4 separate regions of the Homo sapiens genome follow, and regions 1, 2 and 3 are each linked to region 4. The links come from fine-mapping of genetic effects on gene expression. A gene starts in region 4. Each other region holds a variant in brackets. All regions are shown on one strand. Distances are from middle to middle.

Region 1 (4,000 bases), 280 kb after region 4:
ATCCAGCTTTACAAAGAAAACTCAATCAACCAGAATAGTTTATTCAGATTATTTAAAGGAAAGCCAAAATGTTTGCATCATTTTACAGATTATTTTTTCCAAGTTTTAGCTTTTGAAACTCACTTAGGTAGATAGTTAAAATCAATATTCTACAGTTAATTTGTCCTATTTATAAAGATAAAGAATATGTGAATTTTTGGCATTTCTCTCACACTCAAGTGCAGCCATCACCCGAATAGTGTACATTATACCCATTAAGTAATTTCTCATCCCTTACCTGCCTCCAAACCTCCTACCCTTCAGTATCTCCAACATCAGACTCAATTTTCACCCCATTTTTCATCCTAATTGAGAAATCAGAGCAGCCCCATGTTGCCTTTCACATCAACTTGCCTCTACGAGCCAAATCTGATCATTTCCATGGCTGATTCCTGCTACTCTTTACAAGAGATAAAGTGTGATTTGAATGGTCTTAACTTCACCACTCCAGAGCTTCTCTCTCCATTGCCACCCCCAACTTCTCTACCTTCAATCAATGCCTGTGCATTCTTATCATCTCCCTGCTCTCAGAGCCTGCTTTCTTTTAAGAAGATCTGCGATTCAGTCACAAAGTTCCCTTCTAGGAATAATAACATTTTAATAGGTGTCAGAGCCTTCCTCTAAAAGAATGACACTCTGATGGAGAAATAATTGCTTCAACCAGTGGGTAGGAGCTCACAGTAGTTTTCTCAGCTGGGCTTCATTTCTTTCCTGGCATATCATTTTTCTTTTCAACCCTCTGCCTTTGCTCAGGCTCCACCGTACCTCCTCATCCCTTCACTAACAGCATACTCCTACCTGTGTGCCAACAAAACATATACAACCTTCAGACCCAATTTTAGAAAACTCTTTCAAGGAGCCAGCTGAACTACCTCCCACATTGTTAAACTATTTCAGTGTAACTTAAACACTAAGATTTCTGGCTATCTGACAAGGTATTAGCTTCCCCAAGTTGAGTATAATTTCACTGATTTGCAGATGAATATACATATAAATTTTTCATTTTCCGTAGATCACCTGTAAAACTCTCTACATATCTAGATGCCTAGCACATATGCATTGGGTGTAAGTCTAAAGCTTGCTAAAGTAAATTGTTGTATTTTCCTCAAAATCAGATGTTTCTGTTTTTCTTTAATGAACCAATACATAATTTACCTATTTCTTGATTTGTGTCTTATGTAACACTTTAAGGTATTACTTGCTCTAATTTTACAGGGTTGGAGCTAGCACATTTTGGAATTAAGTGGAATTTTGTTTTCACAGCCTTCTTTTTCTTCTGCCTAGTGTGCAGTCCTGTCTTCTCTTACTGTTGCCTTCACGCATACTGCAAAGTAAACGAACACATACAACTGCTTCTTCTCCAAATGCATTAAAATTAAGAGGAAAAAAATAGGCTGGGCACAGTGGCTCACACCTGTAATCCCAGCACTTTGGGAGGCTGAGGCGGGTGGATCACCTGAGGTCAGGAGTTCAAGACCAGCCTGGCCAACATGGCGAAACCCCGTCTCTACTAAAAATACAAAAATTAGCTGGGCCTGGTGGCAGGTACCTGTAATCCCAGCTACTTGGGAGGGTGAGGCAGGAGAATCACTTGAACCTGGGAGGCAGAGGTTGCAGTGAGCCAAGATGATGCCATTGCACTCCAGCCTGGGCAACAAGAGCGAGACTCCATCTCAAAAAAAAAAAAAAAAAAAAAAAA[AG/G]AGGAAAAAAATAGGGAAAGTATTTCCCCTGGTATTAAAATAGATTTCTTTATCCCAGCATGTAAGGCAAACTACATTATATGGATGCCAAAACACCAATTAAAATCAGAATATCTGATTTATCCTACATTACATTTTTCCAATGACTGTAACTTTAATCTTTGATCACCAATTTATTCTAGTTATCTGCAACATAAACTATATAAATGGTCTAAAAGTAAAGCTGAAGCAACCTAGAGATATGCCTAAGGAAATACTATTATACATAGCAAAGGTAATATTCTTCTTATGAAAAAATAAGAATGCAGTGTTACTCAGAGCTAATATTTCTGTTGAAAAGACTGCACAAACCAATTTTGTGGTATTTTTCAAACACCATTTATTATTGCTGTTAAATTTAAAAAATTAACTGGGGCATTGCTCTGAGGAATAGCTTGTGATTCTGTCTCCCAAATTCACCTAGGCTATTTTGCGTTGGAATAGTCAGCTACCCCTCTAATCATGTCTTTCTCATCTCTAAAATGAGAATCATAATGATGATTTTCCCACTTACATGCAGGGATTGTTGGGCTAGATAAGTCAAAAATAACGAGTGCAAAATAAGCTATTAAATCATTTTGTTTTTTATATCTACATGAGAAATGATCTTTTAATTATGGATTTGAGGTATTAGAAAAATACAAAAAGAACAACAAATTTATTTCTGTGGTAGGAAAATTACTATTGAGAACAAAACTAATTTTTAAAGGAGTATATTTAAAGTCTATTTAAAGAAAAATATTAGGTAAGCGAGAGGACAGGTGGCATATGAATACAGCAGAATTGGTGAGGGTAGGTTACTCATGATTGTAGCTTGGGAAACAGTCAAACTAGAGGCCAAGATTCTGGTTGTCCTTTGTCAGAGGATCCAGCCCCTTGCTGGCTTTAAGACTTTGGGCAGATAGTTTTCAAGCTATGTCTCAGCTTCCACAATTGTTCAACCTTACTTTATAAGATTGCTGTGAGGGGGGCAGGGCGTGGTGGCTCACACCTGTAATCCCAGCACTTTGGGAGGCCAAGGCAGGTGGATCACCTGAAGGTCAGGAGTTCAAGACCAGCTTGGCCAAAATGGTGAAACCTGTGTCTATGAAAAATGCAAAAAAACAAAAAACAAAAAAATTAGCTGGGTGTGGTGGCAGATGCCTATAGTCCCAGCTACTTGAGAGGCTGAAGCAGGAGAATCGCTTGAACCCAGGAAGCGGAGGTTGCAATGGGCTGAGATTGCACCATTGCACTCCAGCCTGGACAACAAGAGCAAAACTTTGTCTCAAAAAATAATAATAATAAGTTTGCTGTGAGGATTCAGGGAAGTGAGGTGAGTGAAGCACTTAGAATAGTGTCTGCCACCTAGTTGGTGTTCACAAAGTATTGATTATTATTGGTATATTTTCAATTGTATAATAATTTATCCTAACAGGTTATTTCTCAGATAGTTAGTGAGACCCTGACTGGAGGACAAAAGTCTCTAATATCCACTTGATAGTGTGTTTGGTGTAATTCCCTGCAAGTCTTATTCACAGCACCATGAGTCTAACACATTATGATTCTAATATGGTAAAAGTGAGCTTAAATTGCAATCTAAAAGCCTAGATTAGCTAAATTTAGAGGATTTCTGTTGGTTTTGGTAAGTCTGTCTCTCCTATAACAACTATCCCCTCCCTGCTCCTTGAAGAATTGAGACTCTATTTACAAACCAAACCCATAAAATTTCTATCATTTTACAAATTATTTTGTTAGATTTGAACTTTTGAAACTGGTTGAGATGAACACCTAAAACTCTTTGAACTGAACAGAATTATTGATGTTCCTTTATTTTCACTGTTTTTCCTGGCTGACAAACAAGTTTATATGCAATTTCTTTGAACAGACCACTTGCATTCATTCCTAATGAGCAGCTTTCTATATATATGACATTGCAAATCCTTTCAGTAAGATGAAATTCAAAAGTGACGTTACTGGTCTTCTTGAAGTACCAGTGAATTAAAAGCCAACCGTCTTGACTTCAGGTTATCTATTTATGATCTGCATTGTAGAAAGTCAACCGATTATTCTGGACCTATTTCTTGCCTGAAAAATGAAGTTAGACTAGATCAAGTTTTAATCCAGAGTTATATAGAGAGGGTCAGAATACTTAGAGAGGGATTTCTTTTTACTAGTCTTTAACTGAAATTTATCATTCTCCTCATTTGTAGGAAAGAATACGCATCAACATTTATGGTATT
Region 2 (4,000 bases), 170 kb before region 4:
TTTCTAAACAACTTACAATAATGTTGAGTACTCTCTATGGCTCCTCTGTTGTTGAAAATTGTGTAGCAAGCAACCTGAAAAAAACCTTTCAGAAAATGAATATTCTGCAACAGATGGTACAGAAAGAGAAATGCGTTGATGATGACAAAAAAAGCAGGAGCATTTTGAAATAGCATTACTTATTTTTTTAATAATCAGCTCTTATAAAACTACCCAATTTTATTTTCAAAACCTAAGAGAACTTTGCTGTAGAGTGTTCAAATCTAATTAACAATGATGGAAACTCTAAAACCTGAAAATTTTTACTTAAGGATTTATTTTTCTCCTGGGAGTAGAGTAGGATTGTGCTCCTAGACCAGGCTTCAAGGGACTTTCCTGTCATGTTGAAGTAGCAACCTGAAGATCTGGAGGTGGAATATGGGATTTTACTTTTATGATTGCAATGGAGGGAGTAGAGTCTAGAGATCTGGTACATGTAATTATTTAGCAATCTAATCAGATATTACATTTGGGTCAATAACTGGCATAATTAAACCTCTCTGATGCCTATAGCACAGGGATATGTGCTTGGGTTGGCTTGTCTGATAAAAGATGGGCCATCCAGTTAAAATTAAGTTTCAGATAGGCAACAAATAATTTTTTTTAATAGTAAAAGGATGTCCTATTCATCTGAAATTCAAATCTAGTGGGGGCATTCTGTATTTTTGTTATTTCTGAAAATTTTATCAGTTTAAAGAATATAAAGCTTAAAAGCCAGAACATACATAAGAAATAATAACACAGAGAAGCACATTGTGGTGGATTTAAAACATATCCACAAGTTCTCTGGCACTCCATTGAGAGGTGGGATGTATGTCCTTTCTTTTAAATCTGATCGGATTTAATGATTCACTTGTAACCAGTAGATGGAGAGGAAATGCCTGCATAGCTATGGAGGCTGGGTCATAAAAGGCATTGTAGCTTCTGTCTTGCTTTTGCAGATGAGCGTCCAGGAAAGAAAAAGACTACCCTAAGGCCACCATGGTATAAGGGAGCCCAGGCCACATGGAGAGCTCAAGCAGCTGCTTTAGTTGACAGCCCCAGCTCAAGTCCCACTGAGGCAGAGCCAGGATCCACCACCAGTCATGGGAGCAGGCACCCATAGCAGGGAAAAGCCAGGCAGTGGGAGCAGTCACTTCTGAGCCTGTGAGGGTAGGGGGGGCCTTCCTGGGCTCCCAAGAGTGCAGGATGCATGAGTCTGCAGCCATGGTTTGGGTAGTTGCAGCGACACCTGCGGAGCTCCTGCCCCAACTCAGAAGGGGCAGAGCTCTCACTGGCTCCATGGAGCATGAAGCCCCAGCCGTGTTTCTCTGCTGCAGCCAGCGTGATGGCAGCGGTTGTGCTGTCTGGAGAACTCCAGCCTCCATCCCATGAGTAATTCCCTGCAGAAGTCCAGGCACTGTGGAGCACAGATAAGCTGTGTGCTATCTTAATTCTTGACCTACAGAATCCAGGAGCATAGTAAAGTGGTTTTAAGCCACAAAGTTTTGTGGTTATTTGTTACGCAGTAATAGTAACTGTAATACACATGCTCAGTATAAAGTGAATGGTTAAAATAATCAGTGGTGCAGGAGCTTAGTGGAAGAAGGAGTCATCAGAGGCTTTGGTAGGGTGAGGATTCCCCTACTCTGCCCTGCCCCCACACTCGAAAGGCAGAGCTTGATAGGGAGTATAGAACATGGGAAATGAGAAAGGGAGAGCGTGAAAGCAGAATTAATGGCAAAGATCCTTGTTTTTGTTTTTTTTTTTTTT[G/TG]AGACAGAGTTGCGCTCCATCACGCAGGCTGGAGTGCGTTGCAGCTCACTGCAACCTCCGCCTCCCAGATTCAAGTGATTCTCATGCCTCAGCCTCCCAAGTATCTGGGATTACAGGTGCCCGCCACCATGCCTAGCTAATTTTTGGATTTTTAGTAGAGACAGGGTTTCCCCATGTTGGCCAGGCTGGTCTTGAACTCCTGGCCTTAGGTGATCCCTCCGCCTCGGCCTCCCAATATGCTGGAATTACAGGCGTGATCCACTGTGCCCGGTTGAGAACCTTGTTCTTTTTCCTTTACAATTTTCTTCTTAGGATAATTGCAATTTAAAGTAAATCAGCTTGCAGAAGCACTGGAAAAAAGATTAAGGGTTGAACAGAAGAAGGAATAAATTAAACTCCCATTTTAATTTCTGGGCTATGTTTCTGAGCATTTGAAGATGAAGCTGTTATGGCTGTGCATAGGACTTAATGGTCTTTAGGGAGCCTGATAAACTGAGAAACAGATTGCAGTAATTTTGCATTGGTGACCCAGTAGGCTGACTTAGTCGCTTAAATTTCACATTTCTTTAACATGCTGAAACAAGGAAATTTTAAAGTGTTCTAAAAGAACAGAAAAGTTTCATGGGAGAACAGCAATTTGGTGAAAAGAGGATTTTCTTAACGCCTCAGTGCCTTTTGAGAAGTCTCCAAACTGCTGAATGACCAAAGATAAATGCAAAAGAAACTATGTTATCTCTATTTGTGGAAGGATTGTTTCTGAGCTTCACCATCCGCAGTTGTTGTAGGGAAGATATTGAAGGTTGCGTCATTTTCCCTGGGGACTTGACAATGCCTGAAAAGTTTATAATTCAAAGTATGTCTTATATTACTCAAAATAAAGTTAGCATCTAGAGATTTCTATTTACATGTGAAAAAGTACACTTCTTAATTTAGAAGTGGGCTTTGGGCAAAATTACGAGGTGGGTATTGTGGAAACGGTCTCTCTACCCCTGTATTCTTTACTTTCTTTACTCCCTTTCCCCCACACCTCTCAGGACCCTCCCAGGACCCCTCAGCTCTCATGCCCTGTCCTGGCCCACCAGTTCCTCTCTTCCTCTGCAATAGCCTGCAAGCGCTGGCTTCTCTGTTTCCTCCAGCCTTGCCTTTGAACCTATTGATGGCTCCTTCACATGCACCATTCAGATATATTTCCCCTTAGTGAGGCATAGCAACCACATAGTCTGTATCTTCCAGAATAAGTCATATACCTATCCTGGTACATTCCATTGTCTCCATGAATTAAAATTCCTCAGCAATTCTAAGATTTTGATGTCAAATTCATTTCTCATAATTGCTCTTAAGTCTGAAACTCCAAATCATTTTTAGATAATGTGTTTAGATTTAAAAAAAAAATTTTTTTTTTTTAATTTTTGAGATGGGGTCTCACTCTGTTGCCCAGGCTGGAATGCAGTGGCATGATCATGGCTCACCTCAGCCTCAACCTCCAGGCTCAGGTGATCTTCCCACCTCAGCCTCTTGAGCAGCTGGGACTGCAGGCATTCAACACTGTGCCCACCTAATTTTTGTATTTTTAATAGAGACGGGGTTTGCCATGTTGCCCAGGCTGGACTCAAATTCCTGGGCTCTACAGATTCACCTGCCTCAGCCTCCCAAAGTGCTAGGATTACAGGTATGAGCCATTGCGCCTGGCAGTGTGTTTAGATTCTTTATATGAAAGTTCTATTCTTCACACCTCATTGCTTCTATTTTTTAAAAATCAGCTTTCTGGTTACTCTACAGCTTTCATTGTAGCTGTTGATTCTTGCCTTACTCTCTTTGTCCTTGCCCAAATTCTTGCATTTTTCCCATCCATCCATCCATCCATCCATCCATCCATCCATCCAGTTTATTATTCATGCAGACAGTTCATATTATACAGTAGCCTCATAGTTACTGATGGCCCTCAACTTTGATAGCCTTATTTGTTTTTCAATGGAGTTACCTGCACATAGTGAATATTATGTTAAAGATATAAAAGTATTTAAAGTATAAACCAATTATTGAAGAGTATCGCCACTTTGGTAACAGGATCAGTAGCTCAAATTTCACTGGCTTTCCTTCTCCCCTTGCGATGTGGCTGGCACTTTTAAGACTCTGCAAATTCTCACCTAAGTCTTCAGCCTCCCTGGGGGAAGGTATGTCTCATGTGTGCCTCAGAAGAGTCTGTGGG
Region 3 (4,000 bases), 100 kb after region 4:
CAGGTTGGAGTGCAGTGGCGTGATCTCAACTCACTGCAATCTCTGCCTCCTGGGTTCAAGCAATTCTCCTGCTTCAGCCTCCTGAGTAGCTGAGAATACAGATGCACACCACCATGCCAGGCTAATTTTTTTGTATTTTAGTAGAGACGGGGTTTCACCATGTTGCCCAAGCTGGTTACGAACACCTGAGCTCAGGCAATCCACCTGCCTAGGCCTCCCAAACTACTGGGATTACAGACGTGAGGCAGCACGCCCAGCTGGGTTTTTATTTTGGTGTTGTTAAGTTGCAGGAGTTCTTTATGTATTCTGGATCTTAATCTCTTATTAAACATGTGATTTACAAATATTTTCTCCAATTCTTTGAGTTGCTTTTTTATTCTGTTGATAGTCTCCTTTGATGTACAAGTTTTTAATTATAATGAACTCAATTTTTTTCCATTGTTTTGTTTCATTACCCATGTTTTTGGTGTCATATCCAATAATTGTTGCCAAATCTGGTATCATAGAGCTTTTCCCTTATGTTTCCTTCTATGATTTTTTATAGTTTTAGCTTTTATGTTAGATCTTTGATTCATTTTTACTTTTTGTATATGTTGTATGGTAAAGCCACATATGCTTTTTAGTCACATTTAGTGTTATAGGTTGACAAAGTATCTATGTAACTTTAAATTAATTACTAACCAACAAGTCTATATTTTCCATTACTCTCATACTTGAGACTTATATCTTCCTATTTTTAATTGCTCAGCATGGCCTGAATTTATTACCATTTTTGCTCCTGTTGACTAGTCAAATGTATGTTTGTACCCTGGGATTTTAGCCCTGATGTGTGTTAATAGGATAGGAAAAAGGGCAGTGAATTCAAAGTCAAAATCTTGGACTGAATCCCAGAAATAACTAGTTCCATGACCCTGAGCAAATCATTGAACCTTTCTGAGCTGCAGGAGTAATAGTGTCTACCTCAGAATTTGTTGTGATAACCTTTGTGAAAGCAACTGGCACGTAATAAACACTTAAATGTTTCCTGAACTTATTGCTCAAGACTGAAGCACTGATTTTTTTGTGAGTGACTAACTTCAGCTGACTTGGTTTTGCATTGAGGGCAGTCAACTGTACAGTGAATGGAGGATGGAAGGGACAAACCGTCTATGCTGGGGGAACAAAAAAAGAACAAGTTCCAAGAGACATCACAAAGGAGTACAGACGTGGGATGAGCGTGTGCTACCCAATGTACCCACAGAACAGTGATTTATTTTCTTGTAGGTTTGGGGCAAAATATGAAACCTCAAGAAAAAGTAACATAACAGATTTGACCTCTAACATAGAGTATGCTTGGCATTAGGTGGAAAGTCTAAATATTTAAGATTACATAGAAGGTCTCTGATTTTCATCTGTTTTTAATTTTCTCATATACAGGTAATTATGACAACTAAGTAACTATGTTTTGGAATCCCCTAAACTTAGACATTAAGATGATTTTATGCACATCATTTTCATATTTAACAAAATTAGAATTTTAAAATATGCCTAAATTTGTATACATCGATTATCTTGTATGCAAGTTCCCAAAATGGAAATTTTAGTGGATTAGATGTTGAAGTCAAGATTCTTGTGAGGGAATTATGGTTGAATAGATTCTCCTCCCTGTTCTCTAATCACTGAGATATAGAACCGTTAGTATTATCCCCTCCTCAACGAAACTGAAATAATACTTCTTTTCCTATCTCCCTTATAGTAATATATTGAGATTCAAATGAAATGAAGCATATAAGCTTGTAATGAATAATTTTTCCAGGCATCTTGCTAGGAAATAAACAGTAAAAATTAATAGCACCACCTATATTTATGGGTCTGTCTTTCACTCTCCTATGGTTCTTAAAGCAGAAATGTCTTCCCTACTGGTGTAG[C/T]GAGTCTCTGATTGATTCCCTGGCCCACTGAGAAAATCTATGCTGTGCCTGAAAAGGCTGCACAGCCCTACTGCAATGTCAGGCCCTACAGTTGTGCCTTGGATGGTGTGGCAACACACTGACACGCTGGTCTGCTCTACCAGGGTGTGGGGCTTCTGGTGGAAATCCCTTGGAAGCTGGTACAGTCTCACACCTCTGGCAGAAACAGGGTGCCTCAGAGTTCGTGAGATGTAATACTTGCGTTACTATCCTCCTTGTGTTCCTGGGGGCTTCCTGCCCTATTCATTGACGATAGCCAGACCTACCTCTCCAGACAAGGACCCTCCAAGCAGTGCTAATGCTGAAGATGGATTTTTTCAGCGCTCCTCCGACAGGCACTTAAATCTTCCAAAGAATTTCCCCTGCCTCCAAGAAGTTGAAAGAAACTTTTGGCTCTTAACTGGTAAACATTAGGGCAGGGGTAGAGATGTTTCTTAAAAATTCATTTTTTTCTTGTCTGTCTCCAGCCTATGTTCAACTTCCTAATAGTCTCTCTCTTCCCTCTTAGAGAAAACATTCCTTATTATAGTTATTACTTCTCTAATGAAGAACTTCTCTTTAGAACTCTTGTGACTGAGTCCCATTGATAGAAATAGCTAATCTCTTATTTGGAGAGAAGAAATGGGAGTTTTTTGTTTGTCTGTTTTCATTTCCATAAATTTACAAAATATATCGAACAGCATTGACAATAAGCCACAATTATTAGTCACAAAGAAGAGATAAACCGGGTATGTTTTTCTGTCCTTTATATATATGTAGTTGTTTTCCATTGCTTTAATTGGTTTATAAGTTCAAAGGCTTCTATAAAGCCATTTATTTTAGATTTATTTGTTCAAGCTCATAAGGTTAAAATAACATTTGTTTTATTTTGTAATAAGTCAGCAGACAACTTTTTATGAGTCTTACAAGATGTAGAATAGTTATATTATGTATAACACTCAGAATATTGAGTATTCTAAAACATTCAGATAAGAACTCATTTTGTAGGAACTAAGCATAGTTTAACAATCAACTAACATGTAATTAAGATATTTTCAAGAAATATACTCTCTGATTTTATTTCTGGGTCTACAGCCTAGTTATTTATTTATTTTTGCGAAATCATTTAACGTATCTACTTTATCATTTATTTTCTAAAATAAAAAGAATATAGTTTCACCTATCTGTATCACTGGAGTGTTCTACAAATTCTTTTACTAAACTTTATAAAAATGGTGAGTGTCTTAAGTAAAAAGCCCATCAAGATAAAAATAAAAACTATTGGTGAATCACATAACTTTTTAATTGTCTAACAGAGTCTGCCTCATGAGAAGTGAATTCAGCTTCTGTGTTAGTTTATTTTCATACTGCTATGAAGAAACTTCTGAGACTGGGTAATTTATAAAGAAAAAGAGGTTTAATGGACTCACAGTTCCACATGGCTTGGCAGAGGTAAAAGAGGAGCAAAGGCACATCTTACATGGCGGCAGGCAAGAGGGCATGTGCAGGGGAACTGCCCTTTATAAAACCATCAGATCTCTTGAGACATATTCATTATCATGAGAAGAGTACAGGAAAAACCCACTTCCATGATTCAATTACCTCCCACTGGGTCCCTCCCACAACACGTGGGGATTATGGGAGCTACAATTCGAGATGAGATTTGGGTAGGGACAAAGCCAAACCATATCAGCTTCTAATAGTCTGGAATCTATGAAGTCTCGAGTTGATTCTGTGGCTTACTATGTGCCCAACACCATATTAAGAAATTTTCATACAATATTGAATTCAATCCTGGTGATTCTTCTCTTATCTCTTTTTATAAAAGAGAAGACAGAGGTTTAGAAAGAAAATATAATTTGCCCAAGATCACACAACTTGTAAGTAGGAGAGAAGGAATTCAAAGTGCAACGTGACTTTGGAGCTCTTATTTCCAACGATTAGGGACAGAACACCACACTGTCCTTCTAAAGGTAATTACCTTGAAATTTTAAATCCAGAGTAAAACATCATTTCCTAGAATCCTAGAATGGTGAAGCTGGAAGAGAAATTAAAATAATATCTAGCCTGGTGGT
Region 4 (4,000 bases):
AATAAAAACATTTAAGAAATATATATTTTTCTTTGTGCCCAGTGAATATTTAATTTACTGGTATCATCTGAATGCTTTATAGGGTCTCAGATTGGTTTTAAATATAGTGCTTTCCATAAAGTGAATCTAAACTTTCTAACTTAATCACAGAAAGAAAAAAGAATATAAACCTAAGGTAATGAAGTATGTTATGGATTTCCTATGATTAACAACTTTCAGATTCTTCAGCTGGTAATCAAGCCTTTGGACTTCAAGCTATATTTCATACTTGCTTGCCGTTTGAACTGTACCTTGGCTAGATGTTTATTAGTATTTATGTTGAGTTCCCTCCATTGTGTTCATGTAGAAATTGTCTCACATTTCCAATTCAAAAGAAGACAAAATGAAAGTTAATTTTTAAAAGTTGATGGGCTTATTATTTTCTTGAATTTTCCCTCAGGAGGAAGATTTATGCTATATTAATGGTAATATAGGTAAACCATGACTACAGAAATTGAATGCTACCCACAAACGCAAAATCCCTCCCAGAAGACCTGTACAATGTGTTATTTCTTATGTGCTTTCCTAAATACAAAGAAAGCCAAAGCATATGGTAATAATAAAGCATCTGCTTCAAAGATCTGTATCTAAGTTTGTTTATACATGGTCAGTATATTTAACTGCTGTATAGCACACATGTGAATTTATCATTGGTACTTATTGATCATAAAGAGAACAGTGACATAGATGTCACTACATAACTATGTAATATCTATATAAATATGTTATACATAATATAAAATCATCTTTTTATTTATAGCTTCCTTATTTATTTATAACAGTACATAATAAGTGTGTAGTTTTTGAAGTATCAGGCATCATAACTTCTATGGCAGTTTCTTTGCAAGAAGCAGGCGAATCAGATTTAGAAATAACATGATAGTACCATTAAAGCTGGAAAGAAATATAGAATTCAATTAATATTATAATTTCATTTTACAAACAAGAAAATGGTCTCAGACAGGTCAAGAAATTTGCCCACAGTGGCCCGGCATATTTGCAATAGAACTAGGACTAGAACCCATTTATTTTATTTTTAGTTCAATGCTCTCATAATGATTACATTTCCTAGTTTGGATTAGAACGGCTCGATAAAATCCATGATTCCCTTATAACTCTCTTCTCCTTCCTTATCTCTCCTCAGGGAGGAAAATAAAAAGGTGATCTTTCTCCCTGGAAGTATTTGGAGAGTGCCAATAACTACAGATAGTATCCTCCTTTGTGACATTTGATCTTTATTTTTATGGATCATTCAACTAAAGGCATGCACGTTACTCATTTTTCCCTTTTTATTACATGTATATATTAAAAACATTCTAATCATGCTTTGAAATGATTTAGTTTATTACAAATCTCTGACCTGGAATCTTATGACATTATTGACTGAATAGGAACTTTGTTAGTGATTCAGATACAGGAAGGTCTCCAAAATAAGTTACATTAAAATACGAGCATTCCCTTTATCTGGAGCTAGAATAAGAGTTCCCGCAGTGTAAATCTGTCTTCTAAAAGAAAACAATTTTTAATATCATTTATTTTCAGCTGTTCACAAATTCTTTTATACCTTCTTTTCTTTCCTTTTACTTTTATAAATCCAAATTTCATCACATAATATATAAACCATAGGCTCCCAGGCACTTTGGAGGGGCTTTTTGTTAAAAAAAAGCATGTGGATGTGTGTGTGTGTTTCCATCTCTTTTTTGCAAGAGATGTTTCCTCTTAGTTGGAAACCACATTTGGGTACAGACATCTGGGTATAATGTCACCAGTAGAAATTAGCAATTTTTGTTTTTCTAACTTTTGTAGCTCTGGTCAGCTTCGCATGGGCTTCTATCAGTTGATATGGCATCTTCAACTTCAGCCAAGAGGAGGTTATTAGATTATAAGTGCTAAAAATGATGAGTCGTCTCCACACTTCAGCCAGCATGAATACAAGCAAGATTGTAAAATAATTATAATCTGAAGCAGAGCCAGCCATGCAACCCGAGCCTATCTTTCTTCATTAATTTGTATACAGTTCTTATTTTAAGAGAACAAACTTTCAGAGGGTACTCACATGGGGCTGCTGAACCAGCTGTACAACTTTTATTTTGAAGAAAAAAAGTTGAGCCTCAGAACAGTCTGTTTTAAAGACAGGGAGGGACTTAGCCTTTCGGAGCTTGACCAGCATGTGGAAGGAGAGCTCTCATGGCTGCAATAACTTAGGGAGTTCCTACCTGGATGACACTGGGGTAGGAAGTTTTCTGTTTGTTTTGTTCTGTTTCGGAGGGTCCCGTGCACTTCTCTTGCCTGGATCAACGTGACTCTTGGTGGTTTTTGCACACCCTGCTCTGTGGGGGAGTGCCCCAACGTGCCTGTCTTATGTGGCCTCTATGGACACACTGCTCAGCTGGCAGAGAACAGGGAAGTTTTCTCCCAGCACCCAAAAAGAGAAAGAGGAAACTACTTTTTCTTTCTGGGCTCCTTGCAGCACAATAGATCAGGATAAGCTTCCACATTTCCTCTCTGGAGTTTCTGGAGTGGTTTCCAGGAAGAAGTTAAACCTTCACCTTTAAATGGATGACCATGTCACAATCAGGAAGAAACATCTCCAAAGACCCATCTTTAGGTAAGTAATGCTACATCGCAGGTGGCTCTAGGGCTGTCAGGAACAATAGTTTCTCCCTTCATCCTTAATTTGGGGATTCTGCCACTAAGCTACAGCAGAGCAATCAAGAGTGCTTAAAGTTTAACTTCAGGCATACTGAGGGAGCCTTTTTGTTTTCTGTTTTCTGAAACTTTGTGCACAAACTCTTATCAACTCCTGAAAATACATTTTACAAAATCTTAACTATTCAAACACATAAGTGACATAGTACTGGAAAAACTTTGGAAACGTTATGCAATCTCTAGCTGTTTCTGTAGGCTGTTGCACAGCCCTCTAAATAGGAAACGTTGTGCTTAGTTCTTTCAACTGATTACAGGCAAGGGCAGTGTTTCAGTGCTGTGAATACTACACCTTTCTGGAGTGAAGTGTCGGGAGATAAATTTGAACTTGATAGCTACTTTACTAGAGTGCACATTTTACAGCTCGCTCAGGAATATCAGACCAGCAGTTAAAGAAACAACAGGGTGATAGGAAAAATTTTACACTGTGGTGGAATCTGTGACCAGGCAAAATGTAGATACAGTATAATGGATTGAGCTAAAGTTTAATTTTGGAGGGAGGTACACCCTTTCTTTAAGAAAGCAGCTGTTTCTTCATTGACTCTTTAATTCTGGATTCTTTAGTTACCTATTATGTACTTTAGAATTTAAAATAAAAAATAATTTAAAAGTATCTAGAAATTGAACCCTATTTTTGCCCCTCAAAACAGAAGATTTTTAAGAAAGTCAGTTATATATCAGTTTTGTCTTTCCACAAAATAATATTCTAGATAAAGCAGAGATACTACATGTTAGCAATGTTAAGGTCAAGTTGCAACCACTGGTTTTTGTCTGGAATTAAATACAGGATGATAAAACGTATGAGCAAAATTTCTCTGTGGTTTCTACATAATGAATGAGTAGACCTCGAGGAATATAATTATATAAAATGTGGCCATTTTTACTGATTAAACATCATTACTGAATTATTAATAGCAACATTATACCTTTGTAATGCTTAAAACAAGATGTTAGCTTGAATCTGTTTTAAAGTCTTCCTTTGAACATAAATTATATTTAAATTCATATATATGGATTTAATATTACTATCCCCCTCTACTTAAATATGTTTTTGTGTCTTATGCAATGATGTTGGTAAATAACCAAAAATCTAAAATGACCCCCAAAATATATTCACCTACCATATTTCCTAAAAAGTTCTTCCAATTGTATGTAGTATCTATATTCTCCCAAGTGCACGTGCGACTTCAAAAAGGTATGATAGTTGCCCAGATGATTCTAAACTCAACACCAGTGAGGCACAACTCACAGAGGG

Alleles and levels. Positions count from the first base shown, and alleles are read on the strand shown. Sizes are in standard deviations (SD) of each study's normalised expression.
For the expression in skeletal muscle of the gene that starts at base 2,189 in region 4, G is the low allele of the variant in region 1 and AG is the other (moderate effect, 0.66 SD a copy in FUSION).
In carriers of allele TG in region 2, the expression in substantia nigra of the gene that starts at base 2,189 in region 4 tends to be higher than with G alone (large effect, 1.2 SD a copy in Braineac2).
For the expression in thyroid of the gene that starts at base 2,189 in region 4, allele C in region 3 goes with a higher level than allele T (moderate effect, 0.53 SD a copy in GTEx).

Evidence for each region. PIP is the estimated chance that this variant, and not a neighbour inherited with it, causes the effect.
Region 1: its variant is the best candidate, but not a certain one, in a credible set for the expression of PDE1A in skeletal muscle (FUSION, PIP 0.71).
Region 2: its variant is the best candidate, but not a certain one, in a credible set for the expression of PDE1A in substantia nigra (Braineac2, PIP 0.67).
Region 3: its variant is the best candidate, but not a certain one, in a credible set for the expression of PDE1A in thyroid (GTEx, PIP 0.74).

What each region holds. Positions count from the first base shown.
Region 1 is chr2:182,150,152-182,154,151 of GRCh38, reverse strand. The region is part of intron 13 of PDE1A (phosphodiesterase 1A); the gene reads left to right. Among named protein-coding and RNA genes, the nearest start is that of PPP1R1C, 170 kb to the right of the region's middle. The variant AG/G (reference allele first, on the strand shown) is at 1,739.
Region 2 is chr2:182,596,354-182,600,353 of GRCh38, reverse strand. It overlaps a transcript of PDE1A not described here. Among named protein-coding and RNA genes, the nearest start is that of DNAJC10, 120 kb to the left of the region's middle. The variant G/TG (reference allele first, on the strand shown) is at 1,792.
Region 3 is chr2:182,321,895-182,325,894 of GRCh38, reverse strand. All of the region lies in intron 1 of PDE1A (phosphodiesterase 1A), which reads left to right. Among named protein-coding and RNA genes, the nearest start is that of PDE1A, 100 kb to the left of the region's middle. The variant C/T (reference allele first, on the strand shown) is at 1,908.
Region 4 is chr2:182,425,225-182,429,224 of GRCh38, reverse strand. PDE1A (phosphodiesterase 1A) reads left to right here and starts at 2,189. Exons shown (of 15, transcript NM_001363871.4): 1 at 2,189-2,647. The coding sequence starts at 2,595.